Regions from separate parts of the Homo sapiens genome. Here region 1 is linked to region 2. The links come from fine-mapping of genetic effects on gene expression. A gene starts in region 2. The other region holds a variant in brackets. All regions are shown on one strand. Distances are between the middles of the regions. Region 1 has its middle 34 kb from the start of ZNF195. Region 2 holds the start of ZNF195 (zinc finger protein 195).

Evidence for each region. PIP is the estimated chance that this variant, and not a neighbour inherited with it, causes the effect.
Region 1: its variant is fine-mapped to the expression of ZNF195 in pancreas (GTEx, PIP 0.97).

What each region holds. Positions count from the first base shown.
Region 1 is chr11:3,409,234-3,418,054 of GRCh38, forward strand. It overlaps the pseudogene FAM86GP. Among named protein-coding and RNA genes, the nearest start is that of ZNF195, 34 kb to the left of the region's middle. RefSeq lists enhancers at 53-553, 554-1,054. The variant A/T (reference allele first, on the strand shown) is at 4,523.
Region 2 is chr11:3,373,950-3,382,770 of GRCh38, forward strand. It overlaps ZNF195 (zinc finger protein 195), which reads right to left and starts at 5,197. Exons shown (of 6, transcript NM_001130520.3): 1 at 5,089-5,197. The coding sequence starts at 5,091. It also overlaps the pseudogene TSSC2. RefSeq lists enhancers at 4,898-5,461, 5,150-5,444 and a silencer at 4,903-4,972.

The sequences.
Region 1 (8,821 bases), 35 kb after region 2:
CTTTGTGAAGAACCGAGTGTGTCCAGGGATGTGGCAGCTGCAGCGGGCTTGGCTTTGTGAAGAACCGAGTGTGTCCAGGGATGTGGCAGCTGCAGTGGGCTTGGCTTTGTGAGGAATCGAGTGTGTCCACCGATGTGGCAGCTGCAGCGGGCTTGGCTTTGTGAAGAACCGAGTGTGTCCACCGATGTGACAGCTGCAGCGGGCTTGGCTTTGTGAAGAACCGAGTGTGTCCACCGATGTGGCAGCTGCAGCGGGCTTGGCTTTGTGAGGAACCGAGTGTGTCCAGGGATGTGGCAGCTGCAGCGGGCTTGGCTTTGTGAGGAACCGAGTGTGTCCAGGGATGTGGCAGCTGCAGCGGGCTTGGCTTTGTGAAGAACCGAGTGTGTCCAGGGATGTGGCAGCTGCAGCGGGCTTGGCTTTGTGAAGAACCGAGTGTGTCCAGGGATGTGGCAGCTGCAGTGGGCTTGGCTTTGTGAGGAATCGAGTGTGTCCACCGATGTGGCAGCTGCAGCGGGCTTGGCTTTGTGAAGAACCGAGTGTGTCCACCGATGTGGCAGCTGCAGCGGGCTTGGCTTTGTGAGGAACCGAGTGTGTCCAGGGATGTGGCAGCTGCAGTGGGCTTGGCTTTGTGAGGAACCGAGTGTGTCCAGGGATGTGGCAGCTGCAGCGGGCTTGGCTTTGTGAGGAACCGAGTGTGTCCACCGATGTGGCAGCTGCAGCGGGCTTGGCTTTGTGAGGAACCGAGTGTGTCCACAGATGTGGCAGCTGCAGCGGGCTTGGCTTTGTGAGGAACCGAGTGTGTCCACGTTGGGGGGAACATCATACTTGATACACACGTTTTTATTTGCACAAAGAAAATGCTATTTTTGGAGCCAGAGTTTTCATGTCTGATTGATGGCGATTTTCTTAAGAACCAGAACTGCTGGCAGAAAGGGAGCACCCACAAGCTTAGATAGCCGATGTCTTATCAGAGGGCAGTTTGTGGTTCCTGATTTGGAAATTAACATTCTCCAAACATTCCAGTCCAATGAAAGTTTTATCCGCTTTCCCATATAAAAACTCTTCCCACGAGAGTGACTTGATTCTCACAATCCCGTTGGAGTCGTGTGTGAGTCCTACAGTGTGAGGTTCAGCATTGCCATCTCCAAGTGCTCTTCGTAGGGAAACAGTTTCTGGTCATGACGAGGTTCCACTTCCCATCTGATCCCGGCCCGGCCTGGAAACAGAGGACATGTGTTTGAAGATGGCAGTGTTTGGGGACAGGACATGAGCGTATTGTGTGGGGCTGCTAGGACAGGCCTGGCGGGGTGGGGGCGTGTACAAGTCAGTTTACTTGGTTCACAGGTTCTCAGGCCCACCCAGGTGCCTAGAATTGGCCTCCAGGATGGGACCAGAAATCTGGTTTTGCATAGAAATGGCTAGCAGCAGGCACCGTGCCGCTGTCCAGTCTCTGCCCGCGTCTGCCCAGCACTTGGCACAGCGGGACAGACGCAGAGATCTGAACCCACACTTACCTGGCTGCTCAGTCAACTCACTCTTCACAAAGCTTAGAAAGCGGCCAGGCACAGTGGTTCACGCCTGTAATCCCAACACTTTGGGAGGCCGGCCAAGGCGGGTGGATCACTTGAGATCAGGAGTTCGAGACCAGCCTGGCCAACATGGTGAAACCCCATCTCTACAAAAATACAAAAATTAGGCAGGCACAATGGCGGGTGCCTGTAATCCCAGCTACTTGGGAGGCTGAGGCAGGAGAATTGCTTGAACCCAGGAGGCAGAGGTTGCAGTGAGCAGAGATTGCGCCACTGCACTCGAGCCTGAGTGACAGAGTGAGACTCCATCTCAAAAAAAAAAAACAAAATCACACACACACACACACACACACACACACACACACACACACAGCTTAGAAGGGGCTGGTGTTCTCATAAGCACAGATGTCTGAAGAGCCGTTAGCCAGAATGATTCTTTTCTTTTTTTTTTTTTTTTTGAGATACGATCTTGTTCTGTCACTCAGGCTGGAGTGCAGTGGCACAGTCATTGCTCACTACAGCCTCGACTCCTGGGCTCTAGCAATCCTCCCACTTCCTGAGTAGCTGGGATGACAGGTGCATGCCACCATGCTAGTAATTTTTTTATTTTGTAGAGATGGGGTCCTGAATGCATGGCCTCAAGTGATGCTCCTGCCTCAGACTCTTTTATTATTTTTTTTTTAGACAGAGTTTTACTCTGTTCCCAAGGCTGGAGTGCAGTGGTGCAATCTCAGCTCACTGCAATGCATCCCAGGTTCAAGTGATTCTCCTGCCTCAGTCTCCCGAGTAGCTGGGATTATAGGCGTGCACCGCCACGCGTGGCTAATTTTTGTGTTTTTAGTAGAGATGGGGTTTCACCGTGTTGGCCAGGCTGGTCTTGAACTCTTGACCTCAAGTGATCCGCTCACCTCAGCCTCCCAAATCCTCTGCCTCTTACAGTGTTGGGATTACAGGCGTGAGACACTGTGACACGGGATGATTTTCAATCACAGTTTTTTGTTACGAGTGGAAAATGTGTATTTATAAAAATAAAGTAGTACAGACATGAACGTGTAGAAGTCTCTATAATCCTGCCATCCAAGGATGGCACCTGTTAATGTGTATATCAGGGATGTCCAATCTTTTGGCCTCCCTGCACCACATTGGAAGAAGAAGAATCGCCTTGGGCCACACATAAAATACACTAATGCTCGCAATAGCTGATGAGCTAAAAGAAAAAAAAATCACAAAAAAACCTCGTACTGTTTTAAGAAAGTTTACAGATTTGTGTTGGGCCACAGATTGGACGAGCCTGCTACATATATATTCTAGGTTTTCCCCAATAGGTATACTTATGTGAAAATGATTATTGTGATACTTTTTTTTTGAGATGAAGTCTTGCTATGTTGCTCAAGGGGGCCACAAACTCCTGGGCTTAAGCCATCCTCCTGCCTCAGCCTCCTGAGTAGTTGGGAATATAGGTACTCATAAACATGTGTGGGTGATTATTATTATTTTTTAAACAAAAATGGGGCTGGGCGCAGTAGCTCACGCCTGTAATCCTAACACTTTGGGAGGCTGAGGCAGCAGATCGCTTGAGGTCAGGAGTTCAAGACCAGCCTGGCCAACATGGCGACACCTCGACTCTACAAAAAATACAAACATTAGCCAGGTGTGGTAGCACGCACCTGTAGTCCCAGCTACTCAGGAGGCTGAGATGGGAGGATAGCTTGAACCTGGGAGGTGGGAGGTTGCAGTGGGCCGTGGCACCACTGCACTCCAGCCTGGGCAATACAAAGCCAGACTGTCTCCAAAAAAAAAAAAAAAAAAAAAAAAAAAAAAGGTGGGTGGGGGCTTATACTATGTGTTCTGCTTGGCACTGTTTTTTTCACTTCAAAGATATTGCAGTTATTTTTTCACATAAGTATCTGAAGAAAGACTTCCTTTTTTTTTTTTTTTTTTTGCCTTTTTGAGACAGGGTCTTGCTCTGTTGCCCAGGCTAGAGTGCAGTGGTGAGATCAGGGCTCACTGCAGCCTCCACCTCCTGGGCTCAAGCTATCCTCCCACCTCAGCCTCCCGAGTAGCTGGGACTACAGGTGTGCGCAACCATGCCCGGCTAGTTTCTGAATGTTTTGTGGAGATGGGGTCCCACTATGTTGCCCAGGTTGGTCTTGAAATCGTGGTGTCAAGAAGTCCCCCTGCCTTAGCCTCCTAAAGTGCTGGGTTGACAGGCCTGAGCCCCGCGCCCGGCCAGCCTCCTGTGCGAGGTTGTGCAGGACTTTGTCGTGGAACCCAGTATGCCTTCGTGTGCTGGCTTGTTTGTTGGCTCTGTAGTTAACGCGCTGCCCCACGTGGACAGGCATTGGACCCACGTCTCTGTGTGCAGGCAGAGGCTGCTGCGCGTGCATCTGTGCACATGGCTGCCAGGAGGGGCTGTGCTCAGGGTGATCTGGGGCAAAGGCTGGTGGCAATGGGGGGCTTGGGTGTAGTGTGGAGGCACGAGAGCCAGGTGGCCGAGCTGCAGTCTGTGGGAGCTCAGGGGTTGCTTGGCCTCTGTGTGTCCTAGTGTCTTTGTCGGTGAGATGGGACAATGATAGCACACTCTCACAGGTGCTGGGGGCTGACAAATGTCAGGTCTGAGGACAGTGGCTGGCCCACTACGGGGACAATTCCCCTTCTCTATAGTCACCCTGCTCGTCTTCCATCAACTGGGTGCTCAGGACAGTGGCGTGGTGGATCCGCCTGTACAGCCTGTGCTCCAGCGTCCTGCAGGCCACAGCTGTGTCCAGCCCTGACCCCGACTGCCCCTCCCACCACCTCCATTTTATAGATGAGGAAACCGACGCCCAAGGGCTTAGGGAACCCTGCTCTGAAGCACACAGTAGGGCTGCTGGGCTCAGATCCTCCCTCCCTGTGCTGAGCTGCCCTCCTCCTGCCGCAAGCTCCCACGCCCCAGGCCCACCCTGCTCACCGGCCTCTGCCCTAGTTCCCCGCATGGTGTGGGAGTGTGGGGC[A/T]TCCTAGCTTTTCCTCGGCCCCCAGTTCTTTCACTTCCACTGGAGTCCCGCAGGGACAGCTCGGGGACCATGCAGGCCCGGGTGGGCGTGTGGGCTCACATAGCTCGGTGGTGAACAGCTGGCACGTCTCTGGGTTGCGGACGATAAGGGCCACGTAGACTTGAGGAGCCCGCTGGTGCTCCCGGTAGGCAGCCAGCCTCCGCAGGACCGCGACCAGCGACACGATGGATTCTGGGCAATACAGCACGTCTACGGTGAAAGCTTCAGGTTACTGAAAGGGACCAGCGGACAGTTCCAGGTCATGCTGACCTCAGCAGCAGGGCGAGGCCAGAGAGGCAGCAGTCATATGAGACTAGTAGATGCCATTTGACCATTTGGGCCATTAGATGGAAAGGCAATTGCTTGGGTGAAAAAGGAGAACCCTTAGTAGAGAAAGCTGCAAAAGACCGAAGCAAAAGAAAAAAATCTCCAGACTCACTGGTGTTCCTTAAAAAATGAGCTCTGGTTCTCGGCCTATCTAGAGGGCTGTGAATGACACAAAGCCTGACCCTGCCATGAACTTCGTGTTTCAGGTGTCTGCCGATTTGTCTGCTGGCTTGCAGGGGTGGGCCTGTGTCCCTGGCCACCGCTGGACCTGTGGGTTTCAGGGCTGGGACCCAGGACCACAGGCAGAGCTCTGTTCAACCAGAGAGGAGACCGAGTGTGCTGGCAGGGGCGAGGGGTTTTCGGTGGCCCAGCCAAACACCACCTTCTCTCAAGGGCCCTGTCCTCATCCCAGAAGTGGTTGTTTTCCTCCTGTGGTCTCTGAAAGACAGAGGCATGGCTCTGGGACAGAGCCATGTGGTGATGACTGTAATGGGAGTATGCCTGTCTCCAACAAGAGGGCTGTGGCTGGAAGGTCACCTTAAGAGGCACCCCTGTCCTTTGATGTCACCCTGGAGGCCCAGAGTAACTCTTCTGGAAGCCCCATCATGTCCATGCCCGACAGCGTCCATTGTTCCCTTTTCCCAGAGCCCAGAGCTGGGTAGAGCTGCAAGGACACCGCCTGCACAGAGTGCCCGGGGCTGGGCATTGCCTGCTGCAATGACAACATCTGGCTGGATGGCAGAGAGCTGATGGACCGTCGCGACGTCCCAGTCCAGCTGGGCCACTGTCACCCTGGGGCTGTCTAAGTTGGCAGAGATGTCTGCCTCTAATGAGAGGCCATTGAGAAGGACATTCCCTCGGAGCTTCTCGAGGACCTGGCTGTGACAGTCGCTGAAGATGTATGCCTGGAGGCGGCACATCTTGCAGATGGCCAGGCCTGTGAGGCTGGCGCCACTGCCAAGCTCTAGGACAGTCCTGGCGGGAGGAAAGGGGACCATGTCTGTAACTGCACCAGGGTGAGCCTGCCTCGGTGTCCTGCCGTGCGCCCCGAGGTCACCTATGAGAGAAGGCTGCCGGGTTCTCGATGGCCCATTCTGCCAGGTAGAGGGCAGCATCTCATGTGACCAGGCCTGTGATGCCATGGGAGATGATGGCTGTGCTCTCGGAGAGTGTGACTGAGCCTCCCGAGGGCTGCACCAAGAGAGGGCGAGAGAGTCAGTCCAGCAATCAGAAGGCAAGTGGCTTAGAAGACAAGTAGCCATCCACCACATGGCTGAATAAACCATGACAGGACCAATCGCCACTCAGCAATGAGAAGCAGCTAACTGTTGACATGCCAACAGCTTGCACGGGCCTCAAGGGTGTCACGTGGCATGAAAGACACTCATCTCAGGCCACACAGGATTCCATTCATCGAACATTCCTGAGACAACGGAATTCTGGTGATGGAGCACAGGTCAGTGGTGGCCAGGGGCCAGGTGTGGCTATGAAGGGGTGGCTGCCTTGTGATGATTCAATATGCTATGTTTTTCCTTTGTGGTTTTCTGTATCTATGTTTTATCTTATTTTCTTTTGAGCTCTGTCACCCAGGCTGGAGTCAGTGGCACAATCTTGGCTCACTGCAACCTCTGCCTCCTGGGTTCAAGCAATTCTCCTGCCTCAGCTGCCCAAGTAGGTGCAACTACAGGCATGTGCCACCATGTGTGGCTAATTTTTCCACTTTTTTTTGAGACAGAGTTTCCCTCTCGTTGCCCAGGCAGGAGTGCAATGGCGTGATCTTGGCTCACTACAACCTCCACCTCCTGGGTTCAAGAGATTCTCCTGCCTCAGCCTCCCGAGTAGCTGGGATTAGAGGCACCTACTACCACACCCGCTAATTTTTGTATTTTTAGTAAAGACAGAGTTTCACCATGTTGGCCAGGCTGGTCTCAAACTCCTGACCTCAGGTCATCCACCTGCCTCAGCCTCCCAAAGTGCTGGGATTACAGGCATGAGCCACCACGCCCGGCCTGATTTTTGTATTTTTAGTAGAGACAGGGTTTCACCATATTGGCCAGGCTGCTCTTGAACTCCTGACCTCGGATCCACCCACCTCAGCCTCCCAAAGTGCTGGGATTACAGGTGTGAACCACCACACCAGGACCTGTCAAGTATTCTTTGAGGACTGGACACCAGGTCCTTGTGAAGCAGGTAGAGTGTGTCACCTATTGGACAAATGCCCAACAACCCCATGAGACATGCTGTTGTTGTTGAAGTGCTTGATTTACAGACAGGGAAACTGAGGCTAAAGAAGGTTGACGGACCTCATGTCTAAGACTGCAGAATGGGTGAGTCAGGATTTGAACCCACACCCACGTTTTCACTTTGTGCAGGAAGGGTATCTGGGCTGTGAGGGGGAGGAGGGTGCCCTTCTCATACCAGCAAATAGCTCGGGTGGCCCTGGGTGGACTCCTTGGCCATCAGGGTCTCTGCCAGGTCCTCGTACAGCTTGTCCAAAAGCTCTGTGTGGACAGCCTCGTGCTGGGGTCAGACAGAGTGAGAGCTTGTTTGCTTTCGTTCTAATCTGTAAAAATGGTCAGATGATTTTCACCAAGTTTGGAGGGGAGATTTGGGATGGAATGGTGTAATACCAGCCAGCTGGCATGTAAAATATTCACTTCATTGGGCATGGTGGTGTGTGCCGAATAGTCCCAGCTACTCTAGAGGCTGACATGGGAGGACTGCTTGAGCCCAGGAGTTCGAGGACAGCCTGGGCAAGAGACCTTGTCTCTAAAAAAAAAATTCACTTGGTAGGGAAACCTGGATGGGAGGGCCTTCAACGAGAGGTGTTGAGAGGGTAGGGTTAGGTGTAGTCTAGGGCAGGAGACAAGGATTCCGTGAGAGCTGCCACATGACCATGACAGAGAGGAGGAAAACAAAAGGTGCTTTTAAGTGAGCCCAGGCAGAACTGTGAGGGCGGCCCATGCTGCAGGCTGTGGCTGTCAGCAGGCTGCTTCTCCATGGCTGGCCCCATCTTAAGATTCACAGGGCAGCAACAATATACACTGGGTGACTGCTGCCCTCTCCTGGTGGCACAGGGCAGACCTGCTGGTGACCACAGATGCACCCTTTTGGGGAGGATTAGGGAGAAAGCAGGTATTGGAGAAGCAGGGGATTGTTTACTTGCTAAAAGTGTGGCCCTTTCACTAAGATAGGTCTGCTACTGCCTACTGAGGAATGGCCTCTCGACATCCTTATGTCAAACCCTGCACTTTCGGGCCCATCTTTAAAATCCATCCTAGGCCAGGTGCGGTGGCTCATGCCTGTAATCCCAGCACATTGGGAGGCCGAGGCAGGTGGATCACCTGAGGTCAGGAGTTCGAGATCAGCCTGGCCAACATGGTGAAACTCTGTCTCTACCAAAAATACAAAAATTAGCCAGGCATGGTGGCATGTGCCTGTAGTCCCAGCTTCTTAGGAGGCTAGGCACGAGAGTTGCTTGAACCCAGGAGGCAGAGGTTTCAGGGAGCCGAGACTGTGCCACGGTAATCCAGCCTGGGCAACACAGTGAGACTCTGTCTCAAAAAAATAAGTAAAAAATAAAATCCATCCTGCATCAGTCAGGAAAGAGCTCATTCCAGCAGGATCAATGCAGAGAATTCACCAGAGGAACTAGTTCCAAAGGTATGGCAAGAGCTAAACCTTCCAACAGGGGCCCATGGGGCAACCCAGAGACAGACAAGAGCAGGAAACTCCAAACCCTTCGGCGGGCAGGACAGAGGGTGTGGGTGAGGGTTCCAGTGCTGTGGGCTGGACCAGCCTGGTAGGAATGAGAATCCATATGCTAGGAGCTGGGGCCCCAGAGAAGCAGCTGCTGTGGAAACCCCAGGAGGCAGAGTGAGGGAGAGACACTGGCCTCCCCTTCTTCCTGCCCTGCACTGTCTCCCATGGGTC
Region 2 (8,821 bases):
CTTTGGAACCAAGGCTGAGCTCAACTCGTACAAATGCATCTGAAACCCCCCATCACTGATTCTGGCCACACCTTAGAATCCCATGATGCATGTGACTTAAACAGCACTGGTGCTTCCACCCAAACCAATAGGCAGAATCTGTGAGGGCAAAGGTGAGGGCCTTTTTTTGAGTTGTCCATGTGATTTAATTAGAAGCCAGGCTGAGAACCATTTAGCTAAGCCTTGCTTCTCAAGCTTCAATGTGCATATGAATCTTTTGGTAATTTTGGCCCCACTCTAAGTCATGTGATTCTGAAGATTTCAAAGGGGTTCATGGGTTGGATTTTTTAACAGTTCTGCCATTAATGGTGATGCTGCTCCCCCAAGACTTGTGATCATTAACACTCAGCTAAAGAAAGCAGCCCCAGCACAGTCCCTTACACCCAACCCTCTGACCACAACATAAGTTCTTCTGGTGCAAATGGAGACAGCCAATCTCTATTCTGAAAGATTACATTATTTCCTGGCTCTTTAAAGTTTTCCAGGGCTGGAGAAGGAAGCAATGTCTGAGTCTGTCTGCATTTGGAAAACAATGTGTACACACGTATGAATGCAGTGTTTATTAAGCAGGCACGGGGTGCTCGGATGTATGTGACAGCACTGTGCTGGGCACCTCACGTCATGTGAGTTAATCCTCACCACACCCTGGGTGATGGAACCAAGTGTCCTGCAACTCTCAAGATATAGATGAAGGGACCAGGCTTTGTGGTTCCTCTTCTATTTTCCTATCATTAACGTTTTAAAAGTGTAGTGATAAAAGCTCCAGATAGACCAATGGAAGGGATACAGAGGGGATGAAGTGTAGTGCAAAGGCACTTTCCATTGTTGTGTTTATCTTCACTTTCTTGTGGCTTGTGAAGCAACTATTAGACCCACAGGACTGAGAAAGAGCTTGCTGGATACGATGTCTCTAACAGCGCTGGTGTTAGTAAAAAAGAAAAATTAAGGCTCCAAAATAGAGAGTCCTTTGATCCCATTTATCTGCTTTGGGGTTTCCGAAAATTCTGTGTATCAGTTCCGGAGAGGCAGCAGGAGTCAAACTCTGATTTAACTCTGTAGTTAAACTCCAAACTGATTTAACTCTGTAGCTAAACCCAAAACTCTGATTTAATTCTGTAGTTAACTCTGTCGGAGGAGAGTCCAGGGTGAAGCCAGACCTGGATGAGACTCAGAGAAGGAGAGTCTGGGCATGTCTGGGCAGGGAGAGGGCCCTACGCAGGATTCTGCTCTCTATGCTACTAGAGTATTTACAATTCTGTTTTTCCTAAAACTGCCCCCCACCCCAAAATTTAAATCCCAGGGTTTGTATAATTTTAATCTATTTTGGCCACTTCCTTGTCTATTTTATAACATAAAATAACAAGCAATTTAACCGAAACCTTTAGGATTTTCTAGGACAGATATGGTAGAAGCTAAATATTTATTTTTAGCCGGGCAAAAGCAACAGAAATAATACCACCACCACCTTGTCTGTCTGAATATCCCTTCAATATGACATCAGAACTCACAACAACCACATCAGGAAAATGGCCCAAATGAAGCAGAAGTCCCTTTGACCACTCCCTTCTTCATGCTGACCCCAAGACGCTGAATTCAATGATTTATCCAGTTACTGGAAATGGAAAAGTTTCTGGCTTGCGGGGACCATGGCTGCCTTCTCTGTTTTCCTAATGGCTACACAGGATGGAATCAATTAGTTTATCAGTTTGAATCTCCAGATCTCATTTTTGTTTTTTACTGAAGTACCAGAAAAACTGGAGTAATTCCCATGTGGATACCAATGAGGTTTCTTCTCTGAGGGGAGGAACAAACCCTGGGTGACTCATTTCTCTTATTCTACAACAGAAGCACAGATAGACCGTTTTGTCAGCCTGAGCCCCGTCTGCACAGTGCACTCCTGAATGTCCAAAAGACTCCAGGTGCTGGTGAGAGAGTTCCTGGTGACCCTGCACAGATGCCCTCTATGGCCATGAGATCCATGATAGTTGCTACCTTCTCCCTGTTGCAATCCTCCTTTAGAGTTCAATAACTTCCTATCTAAAGCTAAATTTATTTTATTTGACGAAGTCTAGAAACAGCCCCAGGATAATAACGATTCCATACCCAGGAAGTCCTCCCCAGCTTCCTTCCATCCCAACTCTAACTGCATCTGCCTGTGGGTCCCCAGTGCTCCCGGGCTCTGCAGCTTCTCTCTGTAGAAAGGCTCCTTCCATGGTTGCTGTGAGCAGTCTGGCGCACCCGCAGGGGAGGCTCCTTGGGAAGCACTAGCTAGGCCAGGGGTGTCCGATCTTGGCTTCCCTGGGCCACACATAAAATACACTAACACTAACGATAGCTGATAACTGAAAAAAAAAAAAAATCACAAAAAAGTCTCATAATGTTTTAATAAAGTTTACGAATTTGTGTTGGACCACATTCAAAGCCCAGGCCAGCATGTGGCCCAGGCCTGTGGGTTGGACAAGCTTGAGCCAGGCCTTCGATTGCTTTCTTTTGCAGACTCAGTATTAGCCTTAGCTTGGAATGACTGTTCTTGGGCTTCAACTTCCCAATCAGGGTTATCCACTTAGGTTTAAATAAGAAAATACCCAGTGTTGGAAACATCCAACAAAATCACTGAAACAGTTTACAGAAGAAAAGGAAACTGTAAGCACTTACACTTTCACCTCCACAGAAAAAGCAAAATTATTTATTGCTTTCAGACAATGAACTTGTCATTTAACTATTTCCATAACAAATCATATAGTAAACAATCACATGTGAACACTTTTAGAAGTGCTAAGTTCCATCTCCTACAACTTAGCATTAAGCTCAGACATCTAGAGAACAGGATATAAAACAGAGATACTCATGACAACAAATTCATCCTGCAAAAAGAGCTCATGTTCTGATGAATCTATGCAATTTACCAAGTAATCTACCATAATTTTTTTGTAGAAAATGTAAACATTCTCCACAGCCATCCAAGAAGCATTTTATGTTCCCTGGTAGCATTCCCAAAGCTAAGCCCTGGGATTCTGTTGGAAATCATCTTCCACAAAAGAACAGACCTAAGTAACTTTCTACCCTTAATCACTCTGGAGAAGAAAAAGGTATGTATGACTAGATATTTAACTTTTTTCCTGAAATTGACCTATTTCATGTCCTTTGTAAGTATTTTCTTACCTTTCAAGCTCTACTGATAAAATGTAAATTTACAATTAAAAATCCAACATTGCAGTAAGTGAATAAATTATTTCAAGGAGACACAGAGAGTGGCAGTGCCGACTGGAACACAGACACAGCTAATGACTTGTGTCAAGTCAGGCTATTCTATTCCTTGGGAGATTCTCCCACCTCCATCCTGTTCACCGAAGTGCTCACCGGCCACCCCCGATGATACACTGCACTGTGCCCCGCTGAGTGTCCCAGGTGAATTTTGCTTTACAGGTTTTGCACCATCTCACGGGGTGGAGTTTTTCTTGCTCTTTGAAACATTCTGTCTCCCTTCACAAATCTGAGAGTCCAAAGGGCAGAAATGATTTCGGTCTTTTCCCTCTGACAGGGGCATGTGATTGGCTGATCAGCCATGTGTCTCCAGGGATTGAAAGTTGGGTTGGGTGAAGACAATCTTAATGTCCTAAGTGGTTACCTCTTTAGAGGAAGAGTAGACCAGGAGATTTCTCTCAGCCCAGGGCATCCAGCTGCTCCCTGGAGAGGCCACACTTCATACCTCAGGCTGTCCTCTGAGAAATAACCCAGGGCCTGAAATTCACTAGATGCTCCAGCAGACATGGCCATGGTGGGCATCCTGTGTTATCCCTGGACAATACTGAAACTGAGGAAAAAGTCCAGAGGGTGGCTGAGAGCAAATCACCCTGTCAAGTTTCCAAAGTGGAACCTCAAACCAAAGACATTCTGGTAAGGTGTCTGTGCCTAGGGAAAATAAAAAGGAGGAGAGGCACAAAGACTTTTTACAATAGCGTCAGGGGATGATTCTCTGCTTTCCTGTCACGTGGAATGATTACAAACAGAAAACAAATCTCTTAAAAAGTGCCGTCCAGGCTGGGCGCAGTGGCTCACGACTGTAATCCCAGCACTTTGGGAGGCCAAGGCAGGCGGATCACATGAGGTCAGGAGTTCAAGACCAGCCTGGCCAACATGGTGAAACCCCGTCTCTACTAAAAATACAAAAATTAGCCGGGCGTGGTGGTGCAGGACTGTAATCTCAGCTACTCGGGAGGCTGAGGCAGGAGAATTGATTGAACCCGGGAGGCAGAGGTTGCAGTGAGCCGAGATCGCGCCACTGCACTCCAGCCTGGGGGACAGAGCGAGACTCCATCTCAAAAATAATAATAATTAAATAGCAGGCAATCCGACTGAGGTGGCTCTAGTGCCCTGGGTTCTTAGGTTAAAAAAAAAAATCTAACTCAGATGCGTTTCTTGCAAATGACTATCTTGCAGAAACAAAATTCAGGCTTCGTCAACCACAAACCTCTAATTAACTTCTGATTACAGGACCAGAAAATTTCAGCCTAGATAGCTGAAATCAGGAGATGACGTAACTGTACCGAACTAATGAATGAATGTGGTTTGCTTCCTCATGCACCTGATAAAAGCCTTTCCTTCAAGGCCGGCTGGTGGGACCTCCAAACCCAAAAAACATGGTTGGGTCCTCTGCCATTCATGAATCGCTCTTTGCTCAAATAAAACTCTTTCACATTTTTGCAAGGACTCCCTCGAGAGAAAGGAGGGACTGGGGCCCCCACGGGCTACAGATCATCCTCTTATGCACAAACCACCCACGGAGTCGGGATTCTCCCTTCCTGACTCGGGGAGACGAGGGTCTGCGGGCGAAGAGCTGCCGGGGGGACATGGCTCTGGGCTTGGGCCAAAGCCGCTCTGCAGGGATGCGCCGGGGCGCGCGGGGCCCGGCCGCCATGGTGCAGCTGGAGGGGCCTCGGGTCCGCGGAGCCCGGAACCCACCCGGGCAGCCCGGTTCCTCCCGAGCCGGTACCGCGGGTTCCAGTCCGCCCCTCCCTGTCTCTCAGGAGGCCTGGCCCCTACACTCACCATCTCCTGGCCTCCAGAGAGCCTGGCGTTTCACTTCTGGATCTCCCGGTGCCTGCGGGTCACACGACCTACGGCTAGCAGGGGACACAGAGCCGCGGGGACAGGAAGTGGAGCTCTGTCGGGACAAAGGCCCCGCTAGATCCCGGAAGCCGTCCTCTCCTCTCCAGACATGTGCCTGATTGGACAGTCCCCGCCCCTACTCCTCTGATTGGATAGGGCATCACGCCCCGCCCCCTCAGGCCCTGAGTGACAGGAGCTGTAATCAGACAATGGGCCGAATGAGACAGCAAGGACAGGTGCTGGCCGCGATCTTTTGGAGCGGGGCTTCCTGCCTGCGCTGTCCGGCCCCACCTAGAGGATATTTACATTTCATCTTGTGACTGCGGTTATGTTTATTTATAAATAATAAATATATGTTATTCACCAATGGAAAGAAGAAAATAAAGACAATCATTTTGAATTTTTATATTTTATGGCCTTCCTGGCTTTTGGTCCTTTGAACAGACAGCCTGAAATTTCAAAAAGGATTCAAGCCTCTAAGAATTAAAATGTAAGCCATGTGTGAATCTTAAATTTTCTAGTAGCCACGTTTTAAAATGTACTAAGAAACAGGTGAAGTTGATTGTAATAATTTAACCCAGTATGTAACCATTTTCCTCTATGGTCAATATACAATTGGTAAGGAAGTATATATTTTGGGGTACTAAATCTTTGAAGCTCACTCTGTATTTTACCTTTTCAGCACATTTCAGTTCAGACCAGCTGTATTCCTGTTATTCAATAGCCACACATGATCAATAGCTGCCACACTAAAGTGCAGCTCTGAGGTCTAACCTCCCTTATGTCAGGAAGTGGAGGGTCTGAAAGTCCCTTTTCAGCCAGAGGTGAGGGAACAGCCTCTTGCTACAAACATCTCTCCTCCGGTCGAAGGGTGGACGAGATGGTGATCCTAGAGAGCATAGGGGAAAGCAAAAGAAAATATCCACGGGTAGAGGACTGCTGCCCATCAATAATGGGGCCCTAAGAGGAGAGAACACATCTTCAGATCTGTCCATAGCCTTGACCTCCAACATTTAGATATGGAGGAAATAGACTAGAGGCAGACTTATCTTGCTATTTGGCCTTAGCCCTAATGATCAAGCTGTGATTGTCTGTTTCTTCCCGTGGTTGGGGGGCTGTGTGAGTAAAAGCACCAATCACATATATACATGTGTACATGCATTTCTGTATGACGGAACATTATCTTACAAAAGATCCAACTTTAAATAAGGGGGGAGAATTAGTACCTATAAAGTGCTTTCTTCTTGCAGGTAACTAGGAATCAACCTTTCATTGAATCCTGGCACCCTATCTGCCCTGGGTGCATGTATTAGTTAGCTATTGCATAACAAATCACCGAAAACTTAATAGCTCATGATTGAGTTCATCAGCCATTCACGCTGAACTCAACTGAGCTATTCTTGTCACAACTGGACTGCTTCATGTATGTATGGCCAGCTGCTGGTTGACTAGGTGGCTCTGCTTCTGGGGATGAGATGGCTATCAACAGTGGCACCTTCCTTCTCCCCACCATGGTATGTCATCCTCCAGCTGGCTAATCTCATAAAGATAGCAAGGTTCTGATAGCTTGATCTCATAAAGATAGCAAGGTTCTGAGAAACACAGAAGCATTTAAGACCTTTTGAGCCTAGGCCCAAAACTAGCACAAAAGCTGTCATATTCGCAGTTGATACGGTCTGGCTGTGTCCCCAGCCAAATCTCAACTTGAATTGTATCTCCCAGAATTCCCGTGTGTTGTGGGAGGGACCGGGGAAGGGGGTAATTGAGTCATGTGGGCGGGTCTTTCTCATGCTATTCTCATGTTAGTGAATAAGTCTCACGAGATCTGATGGGTTTATCAGGGGTTTCCACTTTTGCTTTCTCCTCATTTTTCTCTTGCCGCCACCACGAAAGAAGTGCCTTTTGCCTCCCGTCATGATTCTGAGGCCTCCCCAGCCATGTGGAACTGTAAGTCCAATTAAACCTCTTTTTGTTCGCATGTTCAGGAATGTCTTTATCAGCAGTGTGAAAACAAACTAATACAACAGTTTTCTATAGCCAGAGAAAATAGTGCCAGCCAGATGCAAAGTTTGGGAAACACATTCGGCCTCTTGATGGGAGGAGCTGTAAGAGCACACAATAAAGAGCATAGATACAGAGAGTAATGAAGCATTGCTGCTGTTTCTGCAATCAGTATTATTCTACCCTTTCTTGCAGAAGAGGTTTATATTACTGCTCCAAGTCAAGAACCTTGCCCAAAGTCCCACAGCTGCTAAGCAGCTGGGCTGGTACTCAGGATCAGCTCTGCCTGGCTCTGCAGCCCTTACTCCTGCATAGACTGCACTGCTCATACAGCTTTCCAAGGCCTGCAAGTTTCTGGAGAGTAACTCTTCTGCAATAGAGGCAGAATTCCTTTTAGATTTGGACCCATATGGTGCTGTTTACCATTGGGAATAATCAATCACCTCGAGAAATTGCAGAAGCTTCTTGGAAGGACATGGAATAATTTGAGGGAAATGGCTGATAGATGACTTTAGGAAATCAGAGCCCAACAACAGAGGAGCAATTTTAAAACAGAATGTATCCTATATGTCTGTAAATGCTTTCATTCCTTTTTGGTATTTGTAGGCTGTTCATAATTTTCAACACTGACTATAAGTACTGTGACTGAAACAACCTCTTACTCTGAAATCAAGTGACTTAAAGATACATCTGCTGAGAAGACTTTTTTTCTGCAGCAATTTATCCGAACAGCTAAGTACATCTTGGAGGTGTCCGTTGATTTTTAATAAGGAAGAGCTATTTTTCAAGCTCCTATGTGGCAAATCCCATCAGTATGCATGGAAACCAGCTACAGTGAATGCATTCTTTACCCTGAATCAATTGTTCTCACCCCTGCTACATGTAAAATCACCTGGGGGGATGGCATTTAGAATTTCCCAAACCCAAGCTGCCACCGACCAGTAAAATGAGAATCACTGGAGTGGGGCCTGGGCAACATTGTGGCTTAAAGGTCTCCGGGGGATTAGAGTGTGGGCCAGACCCCAAACCACTGCTTTTTTTTTTTTTTTTTTTACTTTTACGTTCAGGGACACAGGTGCAGATTTGTTATATTGGTAAACTCACATCATGGGGGTTTGTTGTACAGATTATTTCATACCCAGGTATTTGTTTTCTGCTATATCCCCAAGACCATGAATCATATCTGGCACATAATAAGCATTTCCTAATATTTGTTCAAAAAGGATTTGGCAGTCTTGGGGGGCAGAAGGGGGGGTGGGGAAAATTTTTAAATAACACAATTTTTTTAAAAGGCACAATGTTCTACAACGTCAAATTCTCTTGTATATTCAGGAAAGTTGAGGGTTTTTTCTAAAACATGCTGACATAATGGGAAATAAGATGCAAAATTTGCATGAATGTTTAAGACAAAGTCTGAGGTTTCCAAGAGATGTTGTGCTGGGGAGGCTGTGTGCTACAAGCTCGCAAAGCTCTGGGAGGACAAAGCATTCATCCTCCCTAGCAGAGGCCGTGAGGTGAGAAGCTCGGTGGAGCCCCCAAGCTTTGGACTTTTAATATAGAGTGTTCAGGTCCTTATAGTTAGGGCTCATGGCACAAGCAGGTCACAGGTCTCTGGCTCCTCTGACCTTTACCCTCCTTCCCAAGGGAAAATGTGACTCTCCAAAGCAAGAAA